Linked DNA regions of Homo sapiens: region 1 is reported to be linked to region 2. The links are microRNA targets in miRTarBase. Many come from high-throughput screens and were not tested one by one. Region 2 holds a microRNA gene; the other region holds the end of a gene's coding sequence.
The links. The annotated mature microRNA hsa-miR-4748 reads GAGGUUUGGGGAGGAUUUGCU and lies in region 2 at 2,820-2,840, shown strand. An mRNA with a match to its seed (bases 2 to 7 or 8) in the 3' UTR can be bound and repressed. Matches are read on the target gene's strand: a 7mer-m8 pairs with bases 2 to 8, a 7mer-A1 pairs with bases 2 to 7 and ends in A, and an 8mer does both.

Region 1 (5,383 bases), not on the chromosome of region 2:
AACTGGGCATGTACTTTCTCTAGAAAGATGTTCCTATTAATTTGGTGATTACTCTGTCATTGCTTTTCCCTGGAGGACATATTTTATTTTATTTTATTCATTATTACTATTATTATTATTTTGAGATGGAGTCTTGCTCTGTCTCCCAGGCTGGAGTGGAGTGGCACGATCTGGGCCCACTGCAACCTCCACCTCCCGGGTTTAAGCGATTTCCCTGCCTCAGCCTCCCAAGTAGCTGGGATTACAGGCACAAGCCACCATGCCCAGATACTTTTTTTTTTTTGTATTTTCAGTAGAGACAGGGTTTCACCATGTTGGCCAGGCTGGTCTCGAACTCCTGACCTCAACTGATCCACCCACCTTGGCCTCCCAAAGTGCTGGTATTACAGGTGTAAGCCACCGCACCCAGCCAATATAGGACATATTTTAGTTATATAAGTTCATTCTGCTTTGTCCAGTAAAGCAATGTAATCTATCCTACCAGTAAGTAGAGACTACCTACACAGTAGTGAAAGATCTAGCCATTTCAAGAGGTCAAGGGACAATTCTGTAAATAAATTGCATCTAAGTAGTTCCTTACTACTCACAACATGCTCTAATAGTGTGAAGAAATTAATTCTTATCCCAAAGAATATACTTTTCCTAGTAATGATAGGCTTCATATAATTGGAATTTAAGAATGCTTTAACAATTCTACCATACTCAGGGGTAAATGACATGAATTCATATATATTGTACTAGTTTAATTTCATACCACCTACTCTGAGGAAGATTTCTTGCTCTGTTTGAAATTTGCAGCAAGGGGCACTTAAAAATAATAACAGACTGAAGAAATTTTTGGGCAGGAAAGGAAGAAAGTTTTCATTATTAAGTGTGGACATACTCCTCTGTGGTAGACAAGACTACCCTTTTCTATTGTGAATACAGTAAGATTTTTGAAAGTTGTGTCTGTCTGATTCTATGAAGCATAAATAAAATGCCTGTTATGTGTTAATATGGTACATATCAGAATATGCAATGTTAATGCAAATTTTTCCTCTTTTAAGTGTAAGCTACTGTATATATAATATACATATATATATATATATATATATATATATATATATATATATATATTTTCTTTTTTAATGCCAACGCAGCCCTGAATTAATTGCAGGCTGTAAAACTGGACCTTTTTTGACTCAGGTTTTAAGGACTCATCTCTTATTTTCAGTATTTGGTGACTTTTGAAGGGTGTATTGAATTCCTTTATTTCCTTAAATATATTTTCCCTTCAATTTCAGAACTTCCTACTAACAGAATATATTTACTAACATTAGAGAAAGATAAAGGACTACTCTCATTATGCTACTAAACAATATGAAGATGAAACCAGAAAGTCAGTTTTTCTGGGTAAAGCAAACAGATGTGTTTGCTTTTTCTCCATGTAAAATAGCTGTTCAAATGCCAAAATGGTTCTCTATTACAGATTTCAGTTAAGTAATTTAAGGAATTATAGCTAACATGTGAAAGTGCAAGACACTTCACATAACACAGGAAATTATCAGGCAAGCTGCCTTAAATGAATGCTGACTACCAGAGAACTATTTTGTCAGACTGATTGGTAATGACCATGAAGATTCTGATCAAGCTTGCTGAGCATCTTCTTAATACCCTAATATTAATGTTTTATTCTCCAATAAAAAAACTAAAATGGTCACTTTGGTTTCTACATCTGTCTAGTTCTTTCCTGCCTGGGATCTTCCTGGAGATGGGTTTGTTTTCTTCCTTAATCATATCTTGGGAACTCAGGAAAACCCACTTACTTCCTCGATGTCAGCCTAATGTCAAACTTTAAATAGCCAAAAACCTGGAATTGTGTTACAACAAAAGAAATCCAATTCCCACACACTTTTATTTTTCCTATACAGCATATGCTTACTGGTTGGATTGCTGAAACGCTGGTGGTGGACAGAGGTGCCTATGCACGGAGGGTGGGCCAGACCTCTGCATCCCTTTAGGGCCCCCAGGTAGGAGACCTCTGGCTGGGTGGCCGGTGGGGATATGTCTCATCTCTGCTCTACTAAAATAGAACCATATTCTGCAAAATACAGCTTAGCTCATAATCCTTTAATTCTTTCCACAGCTTTTTACTCAAGCCATCATTCTAATAAAATAATTGGTGATTCCGATTACCTAAACAGTAGACTAGCAGTGGCTAATTTTTTTTTTTTTTTACTTTTAAACTTGTCTCTAACTTAGAAAATTTTTTCTAAATGTATCGATTAGTGTAAAGAAAAAGTATGAGTAGTTAATAAATCTGACCTATTATACAAGAAATGCAATTTTGAAATACCAGATTTTCATTTTTTGTACTAAGTGTATCTCATTGTAGGCAATAAAAAATTGCATCACAGGCATCAAAAGTGGGAAAAAATTGTTCCTTTTATCAACCAAATAGAAACTTTCAATAACATACTTTGAGTGATAAAATGGTGATGTCTTACATTTACCATTATAGAGAGGTCTTGTGGTTAGAAATTTAAAAAGTGTTTAAAGATGATTAAGCATAGACAATTAAAAGAAACATTATATCTCTTGGTATTTTTCTCAAGACACTAAAATAATAAAATAAAAATATAATTAAGGAAAAGCATGACTTTGGGAAAAAAAAAATCACAAGTTAATTTTTATGGCTGGATTGAAACACTGTAAAATAGACAAAACCTCAGCCAGAGACAGACACCTGGGCATGCAGAAAAATTTTTTCAAAGCAAAAAATTTGTCTTATCCTATTAGTGAAATGACAACAGACTCTAGGTGTGTTTTATTAATGCACAGAGTCTAACAAGAGGTGCAGTAATGCTGGTTACTTTTCCTAATTCTAACATGGTCCTGGCTTTTTATAGTAGGCCAACTGGCATTAACATTTTTTATTTTTAAATAAAATGATCCGATTTCAAGTGGTTCTTTAAAATACCAATGAATGGCAGGATCTACATTTATTCACCGGGTTAAATGCTTACTTTTCGGTTGAAATAGAAAATGACAGTCTTGAACCAGAAACATCTTAGAAAATTGTAGTCCAAACTCTGAGAATAAAATAAACTCTATTTGGGTCTTGTTTTGTTATTCATTTCATGTGTTTTTAATTAAAGGGGCACAAAGCACTTGTGAAGAACAATGAAATGCAAGGTGGTATTTACATATGGTCATATGTATTTGGGAGCAGAAGTCATAGTGTGCCTGTGACTCCATGGAAAATAGCAACACAATAATAGAGAGTTTCTTAATGTAAACAATACAGACTGTAGGCTCATAGGGAAAACTTCCACTACTTTAACCTCACTGATTCTTTTGCATTGACAGTAAATACTGTACTGTATCTATGGATGCCATCTGCAGATTCTTAAAATACAAGATGAGGATTTCCTCACACACAACTTAGTGGGAACTTTCCATGTTCTGTTAAGCCTTTGGGTGTTTTTTTGATCTGTGTCCTTTTTTTTTTTTTAAATAGCAGCAATCCAACTTTAAAAAAATGCAGCACTAAAAAAATAACTAGTCCTTATTCCCATGCAGGACTAACTGCAGGCAGCACATTTGTATCTTGCTTAAGTTTTGACTTTGGATTCAAGTTTTTATTACAGGTGTCATGATTGCCAATACTGTCTTCTCTAGGTGAAGTATGGTTGCTTTGACTTTGGATCTAATCAAGATAGGGAAAGATCAAAAGATTTATTTCTGAAGCTTGCTACAGTTTTCTAGGGTCACATTACATCTGACTTTATTCCCAGTCCTCTTATCCTGTGAAGGCTGGTACACTAGGAAAGGGATATTTAAAAATGTCAAGTGTGCATAGCTAATGCTACTTAAAAGCATGCAACAAAATTTGGGTAAGCATGCTTGTTAAGAGTCAGTAGAAGCTCTTGCATTTAAGAAAAAGATGCATGAAAACATTCAGACTTATTTCTGGCAACTGGATTCACTGGCACAACATAAAATAATGGTACTATACTGTACCAACATAATGGTGAAACAAGAGTATTCTCCGATCAAGTCTTTGAGGAATCCACATCAGGAGGTTAAATTCCTAAATCCCTTAATAAGTTCTCAGCTACCGAATAACTACTTCAAAAATACATTTATGCTTCAATTTTCTCTTTTCTTCATTAACATAATGAAATATTTCTCTTTCTTTCTGATTTCCAACTCCCACCCCTTTTCAGTGCCCAGCAATTTTAATCTATATTTTTCTTTCACCCGCATTATAAAATTTGGCTTTCTGGTAACAGGGAGCCAGTGATTGTCTTCTGCTCATCTTCTTTGATTAAAGCTTCTGATGAAGAATATCCACGGTGTCTCTTACCATCGCTGTGCATTCTGGGCAGCAAGAGTCACTGCATCCTTCCTTTTGCTTGTTGGAGCCATCTGGGCCACACAGGTGAGGAGCACTTCCCAGCCAAGCTGAGTCACACACTTCCTTCACCACAAGTTAAACGGAAACACACACATTCAAATCCCAGTGCAATATCAGGTTTTCAGGAAGCAGGGCTTCCCCCAAAGATGATCAGTCTCTGTTTCCAAATAGTCTCACTCTTCGTTATGGACGATGAAACCTGGAGTAAGAAATAGAAACTATAAGCCTGTGGCCTAGGAGCACATTCTGCATGCAGTGAGCTGAATAAGGCGTGGTCATGTTTACAATGAAAAGGTACCCCAGATATCCCCCAACTGAATTACTGTTTACAAATTTCTGTCATAACAAAATACTGTTACAAATATTATTAAGGAAAGCATATATAAACGCTTTCCTTATATATATGTTTACATATAAGCATATAAGGAAACCTTATATAAAAGATGCTGGTTATAGTATTCAAGTTACACAGCAACCAAGACAGAAAACATCACTATTCTTGAGCATCGTGCTCTAACCTTTATCAAGCAGAGGGAGATGTTTCACAAAGGGATTTTGGTACACCTCGTCTGTATTATAAAAGCACAGTAACAAATAGACACTTTTTCATTAGCTTCAGCCTCTCATCATCTCCTGCTGACGACTCCAAATCTACTTTCTACACTTGAATTTCCAAAAGCCCACAGGGCGCTTCCCCCCAGATGTTCCACAGGTATATACTAAGCATGTCCACAACTATACAAAGCTTTCCTTGTTAACCTGCCTTTGCACTTTGTCTTATTTAATATTCTATCTTTAAAAATATTTTTGGTCTAGAAACCTCAGATTAGCAATTCATTTCTCTCCCTCATCCAGCATTTCCTATTAGTCACCAAGTCCTGCCTCAACTGCCTGTCTTGGAATCATTAAAGTTCCATCTTTTGCTGGCACTACTTTTACGGTATGCTTGTTAGCCAGCCAGCTGGCTTCCTTTCCCTCCTTGTG
Region 2 (5,383 bases):
AGTGTATAGAAAGAGGAAACTAAACTCACCCGCAGCCACACTTCCCCCAGACAGCCACTGGTGAATCTGCAGCTCCCAGCTCCCCAGGGTTTATAACTTTAATTAATTTTTTTATTACTTTCTATTATGAGCCTTCCCTTCCCTTTTCCTTTTCCTTTTTGTTTTTTGAGACGGAGTTTTTGCTCTTGTCACCCAAGCTATAGTACAGTGGCACAATCTCAGCTCACTGCAACCTCCGCCTCCCAGGTTCAACTGATTCTCCTGCCCCAGCTTCCTGAGTAGCTGGGATTACAAGTGGGCACCACCACGCCCAGCTAGTTTTTGTATTTTTACTAGAGACGGGGTTTCACTGTGTTGGCCAAGCTGGTCTCAAACTCCTGACTTCAGGTGATCCACTTGCCTTGGCCTCCCAAAGTGCTGGGATTACAGCCATGAGCCACCGCACCCGGCCTATTATGAGCATTTTCAAACATTCCCAAAAGTGTGGAAAAAAGTTCAAAGAATCCTCGTGGATGGCTTCCCCAGCTTCGGTGGTTATTATTATTATTTTCTTCCTGGAATATTTTATTTTTTCATTTTATTTATTTATTTATTTATTTATTTATTTATTTATGAGACGGAGTCTCTGTTGCCCAGGCTGGAGTGCAATGGTGCAGTCTGGGCTCACTGCAACCTCCACCTCCCAGGTTCATGCCATTCTCCTGCCTCAGCCTCCCGAGTAGCTGGGATTACAGGTGCCAGCCACCACGCGTGGCTAATTTTTGTATTTTTAATTGAGACAGGGTTTCACCATGTTGGCCAGGCTGGTCTCGAACTGCTGACCTCGTGATCCACCCGCCTCGGCCTCCCAAAGTGCTGGGATTACAGGTGTGAGCCACCGCACCCGGCCATCTTCCTGGAAGATTTTAACACAAATCCTAGGCACTGGCTGGGCGAGGTGGCTCACGCCTGTAATCTCAGTGCTTTGGGAGGCTGAGGCAGGAGGATGCCTTGAGGCTGGGAGTTCAAGACTAGCCTGGGCAACATATCAAGTCCCTGTCTCTACTAAAGATTAAAAAGTTAGCTGGGCATGGTGGCATACACCTATAGTCCCACCTACTTAAGAGGCTGAGGTGGGAAGATTGCTTGAGCCCAGGAGTTCGAAGCTGCAGTGAGCTATGATCACACTACTACACTCTAGCCTGCACAACAGAGCAAGATCTTGCCTCTAAAAAAAAAAAAATTCTATAAATCCTAGGCATTGTAGCATTTTACACATAAATACCCACATTTCTTTTCAAATACTTCCCCTTGCCATCCCATTTGTTTTTTTCTATACCATTCATTTGTGGAAGAAACCAGACCACATCCCACATTTGGGATTTGGCCAATTATTGTTCTCTGTTAGCTGGTAATTAGATCAGGTTCAGGTTCAAGTTCAGGTACAGATCTTCTGATAGGAGTAACCTAAGTATTTTTTATTTTATTTTAAAAATATTTTAAATATTTTGGGTCGGGCATGGTGACTCACACCTGTAATCCCAGCACTTTGGGAGGCCAAGGCAGGCGGATCACAAGGTCAGGAGATCAAGACCATCCTTGCTAACACAGTGAAATGTTGTCTGTACTAAAAATACAAAAAATTAGCCAGGCGTGGTGGCACACACTTGTAGTCCCAGCTACTCGGGAGGCTGAGGCAGGAGAATCGCTTGAACCCAGGAGGTGGAGGTTGCAGCGAGCTGAGATGGCGCCACTTCACTCCAGCCTGGGCCACAGAGCAAGGGTCTGTCTCAAAAAAAAAAAAAAAGAAAAATTTTTCAAGCATTTTATTTTATCGGAGCAGCAGTTTTAGGTTCATAGCCAAACTGAGAGGGAGATACAGAGATTTCCTATCAGCCCTATAGCCCACACATCTGTAACCTCTCCCACTTTCAACGTGCCCAGCAGAGCGGTGCATTTGCTAGAACTGATGAGCCTGCGTTGACCCATTGTCACCACCCCACCCCACATCCATGGTTGACATCAGGGTTCACTCTTGCTGTTATAAGTTTTTTTCTTTCTTTCTTTCTTTCTTTCTTTCTTTTTTTTTTTTTTTTTTTTTTTTTGACGATGTCTTATTCTGTCACCTAGGCTGGAGTGCACTGGGACAATCATAGCTCACTGTAGCCTTAAACTCCCAGGCTCAAGTGATCCTCCGAGCTCAGCCTCCCAAGTATTTGGGATTACAGGCATGTGCGATTGCTCCTGGCTAGGTTTTATTTTGTTTTGTTTTATTTTTTTCAGACAGAGTTTCATTCTTGTTGCCCAGGCTGGAGTGCAGGGGCACAATCTCAGCTGACTGCAACCTCTGCCTCCTGAGTAGCTGGGATTACAGGCACTCGCCACCACACACAGCTGATTTTTGTGTTTTTAGTAGAGATGGGGTTTCACCATGTTGGCTAGGCTGGTCTTGAACTCCTGACCTCATGTGATCCACCCGCCTCAGCCTCCCAAAATGCTGGGATTAAAGGCATGAGCCACCGTGCCCAGCCTTCTTTTGTGTTTTTTTAAAGCCATTCCTCCCCTCTGGCATCTACTCTAAGCTGCGGGCACCTCCTGCCTTTCCCTTCATGCTTAGCCGCAGTCATTTAGAGCATTTCTTTTACTCCTGGGTTTTCCACCTCGATGTCTGAGATAGATGTGGGGAAAAGTTCAGACCTTGGTTGCCAGCATCCCCCAGCACTGCTGAGATATTGAGTGGTGAGGCGACCCCGGATCCCAGGGGAATGCTGTCAGGGCTAAATTCAAAACCCTGTTTAGCTGTGAAGATCCGGGGCTGAGAAGCAAATCTGTGGCTGGCTGAGGTTTGGGGAGGATTTGCTGGTGCTAGAGAGGAAAGCAGACCCTACCCAACCCCACGCCCTACTACAGCCACCCCGACCCGGCTGCCCTTGGACACTGTTAGGCCTCCATCTTGGATCCTAAGGGCCTTTGGGGTCTGTGGGCACTAGCCAGGCTGAGGATTTGGTGATATGGGCCTCTTCCCCTTCCTCCTGACTCACTGATGTCCACAGCTGCCCTTCTCTGCCTTCCTTCCTGTTTCTAAGAACGAAGGCGCTTCCACTCTCAGCTCACTTGTAGGCCTGCTCCCGTTTTGTGACCTCAGGCTTCAGAAGCCCTCCCACTGGACCCTTTTTCCTGGCGTACTAATGACTCACAACTCCTCCTCCTTTACGGGAACCCAGGCTAGGCGTGGTGGCTCATGCCTATAACCCCAGGATTTTGGAAAGCACAGTTGGGAGGATGGCTTGAGGCCCAGAGTTTGAGACCAGCCTGAGCAACACAGCAAGACCCCATCTCTCTCTTAAAAAATTATCCAGGCTGGGCACAGTGGCTCACGCCTGTAATCCCAGCACTTTGGGAGACCAAGGCGGGTGGATCAAACCCCAGCTCTACTAAAAATAGAATTAGCTGGGTGTGTTGGTGCATGCCTGTAATCCCAGCTACTCGAGAGGCTGAGACATGAGAATCGCTTGAACCCAGGAGGCAGAGGTTGTAGTGAGCTGAGATTGCACCACTGTACTCCAGCCTGGGTGACAGAGTGAGACTCTGTCTTTAAAAAAAAAAAAAAAAAAAAAAATCCGTGTGTGATGGTGCACGTGCCTGTACTCCCAGCTACTCAGGAGGCTGAGTCCGGAGGATGGCTTGAGCCCAGGAGTTCAAAGCTGTAGTAAGCTATGATTGTGCCACTGCAATGCAGAATGGGCAGCAGAGCGAGACTCCATCTCTTAATTAAGTAAATCAAGCCAAATCCAAGCCAGATGCTTTTTACTGGCCCCTGCTGTTTCCTTCTTTGTGCTGTCACACAGGTGATGGTGACTCTGGCTTCACAGGGATCTAGGTTCAGATCTTGGGTCTCCTACTGTGACCTCACCTTGGCATGTCTTCGTTTCCCTCCTCCCTCTTGGATCCAAGAGAGATCTGGCGAGGATGAAGAGCAGTCACATCCCACAAGACCCTACAGGATAGATGACCGGCACCTCTCCCTTGCTTCTCAAGAGAAACATGCACAACCCCACTACAAAGAAAAGGGAGCACAGGCCAGGCACTGTGGCTCACGCCTGTAATTCCAGCACTTTGGGAGGCCATGGCGGGCAGATCATGAGGTCAGGAGTTCGAGACCAGCATGGCCAACATGGTGAAACCCCGTCTCTACTAAAAAAACAAAAATTAGCCAGGCGTGGTGACGCACGCCTGTAATCCCAGATGCTCAGGAGGTGGAGGTTGCAGTGAGCTGAGGTTGCACCACTGCACTTCAGCCTGGGCAGCAAGAGTGAAACTCTGTCTCAAAACAAAAAACCCCACAAAACAAAAACCTAGCCAGGAGTGCAATGGTAGGCATTCCACTTGGATTCTTTGCAACAGTGTGTATTGAATTATCCAGCTTTTCTCCCCCATATACTGAAGCGTTAACTTTCAGTTCTACCTCCTTCTCGGTGTAGTTTTGGACTTTCTTTTCAGTTCCATTGATCTCTCTGGACATGAATACCCTGATGTACCCAACTGTTTAAAATATACTCGTTTGATAGTGGATTTTAGCTCTTCCCTATTGCTCTTGTTTTTAAGATGTTATTTCTTTTTTTTCTTGTGAGACAAGGCCTCGCTCTGTTGCCCGGGCTGGAGTGCAGTGGGGTGATTACAGCTTGCTGCAACCTCGAACTCCCAGGCTCAGGTGATCCTCCCATCTCAGCCTCCCAGGTAGCTGGGACTATACACGTGTGCTACCACGCCTCGCTAATTTTTGTATATTTTTGTAGAGATGGGGTTTTGCCATGTTACCCAGGCTGGTCTGGAACTCTTGGGCTCAAGCGTTCCACCCGCCTCGGCCTCCCAAAGTGTTGGAATTACAGGCGTGAGCCACCGCACCTGGCCTTGAGATTTTTTTTCTTTTTCTTTTTCTTTTTCTCTTTCTTTTTATTCAGAGTCTTGATCTGTCGCCCAGGCTGAAGTGTAGTTGCATGATCTTGGCTCACTGCAACCTCCGCCTGCCGGGTTCAAGCGGTTCTCCTGCCTCAGCCTCCCGAGTACCTGGGACTATAGTCACGCGCCACCATGCACGGCTAATTTTTTGTATTTTTAGTAGAGGCGGGGTTTCACCATGCTGGCCAGGGTGGCCTCGAGCTCCTTACCTTGTGATCTACCCACCTCAGCCTCCCAAAGTGATGGGATTACAGGCGTGAGCCACCGCTCCCGGCCGAGATTTTTTTCTCACCTATCTTTGAATCTCAGCTTGTAGATTTCATCTGCCCCAAAGCTTTTTTCTGTCCCTGCGCACACAGGCTGGATGTGAGCTCTCCTTCCTCCAAATACTTAATGTTGCTCTTCGCAGCTGCCATGTGCATTCGCACCCTCTGTGTTGTTTCTG

Region 1: the mRNA of PHACTR2 is a reported target of hsa-miR-4748. The part of its 3' UTR that is shown has no 7-base or 8-base seed match.

The regions. Positions count from the first base shown.
Region 1 is chr6:143,822,889-143,828,271 of GRCh38, reverse strand. It overlaps PHACTR2 (phosphatase and actin regulator 2), which reads right to left. Exons shown (of 13, transcript NM_001100164.2): 13 at 1-4,598. The coding sequence ends at 4,583. Among named protein-coding and RNA genes, the nearest start is that of LTV1, 18 kb to the left of the region's middle.
Region 2 is chr19:10,777,444-10,782,826 of GRCh38, forward strand. MIR4748 (microRNA 4748) reads left to right here and starts at 2,811; the gene lies at 2,811-2,892. The region is part of intron 5 of DNM2 (dynamin 2); the gene reads left to right. RefSeq lists an enhancer at 1-261.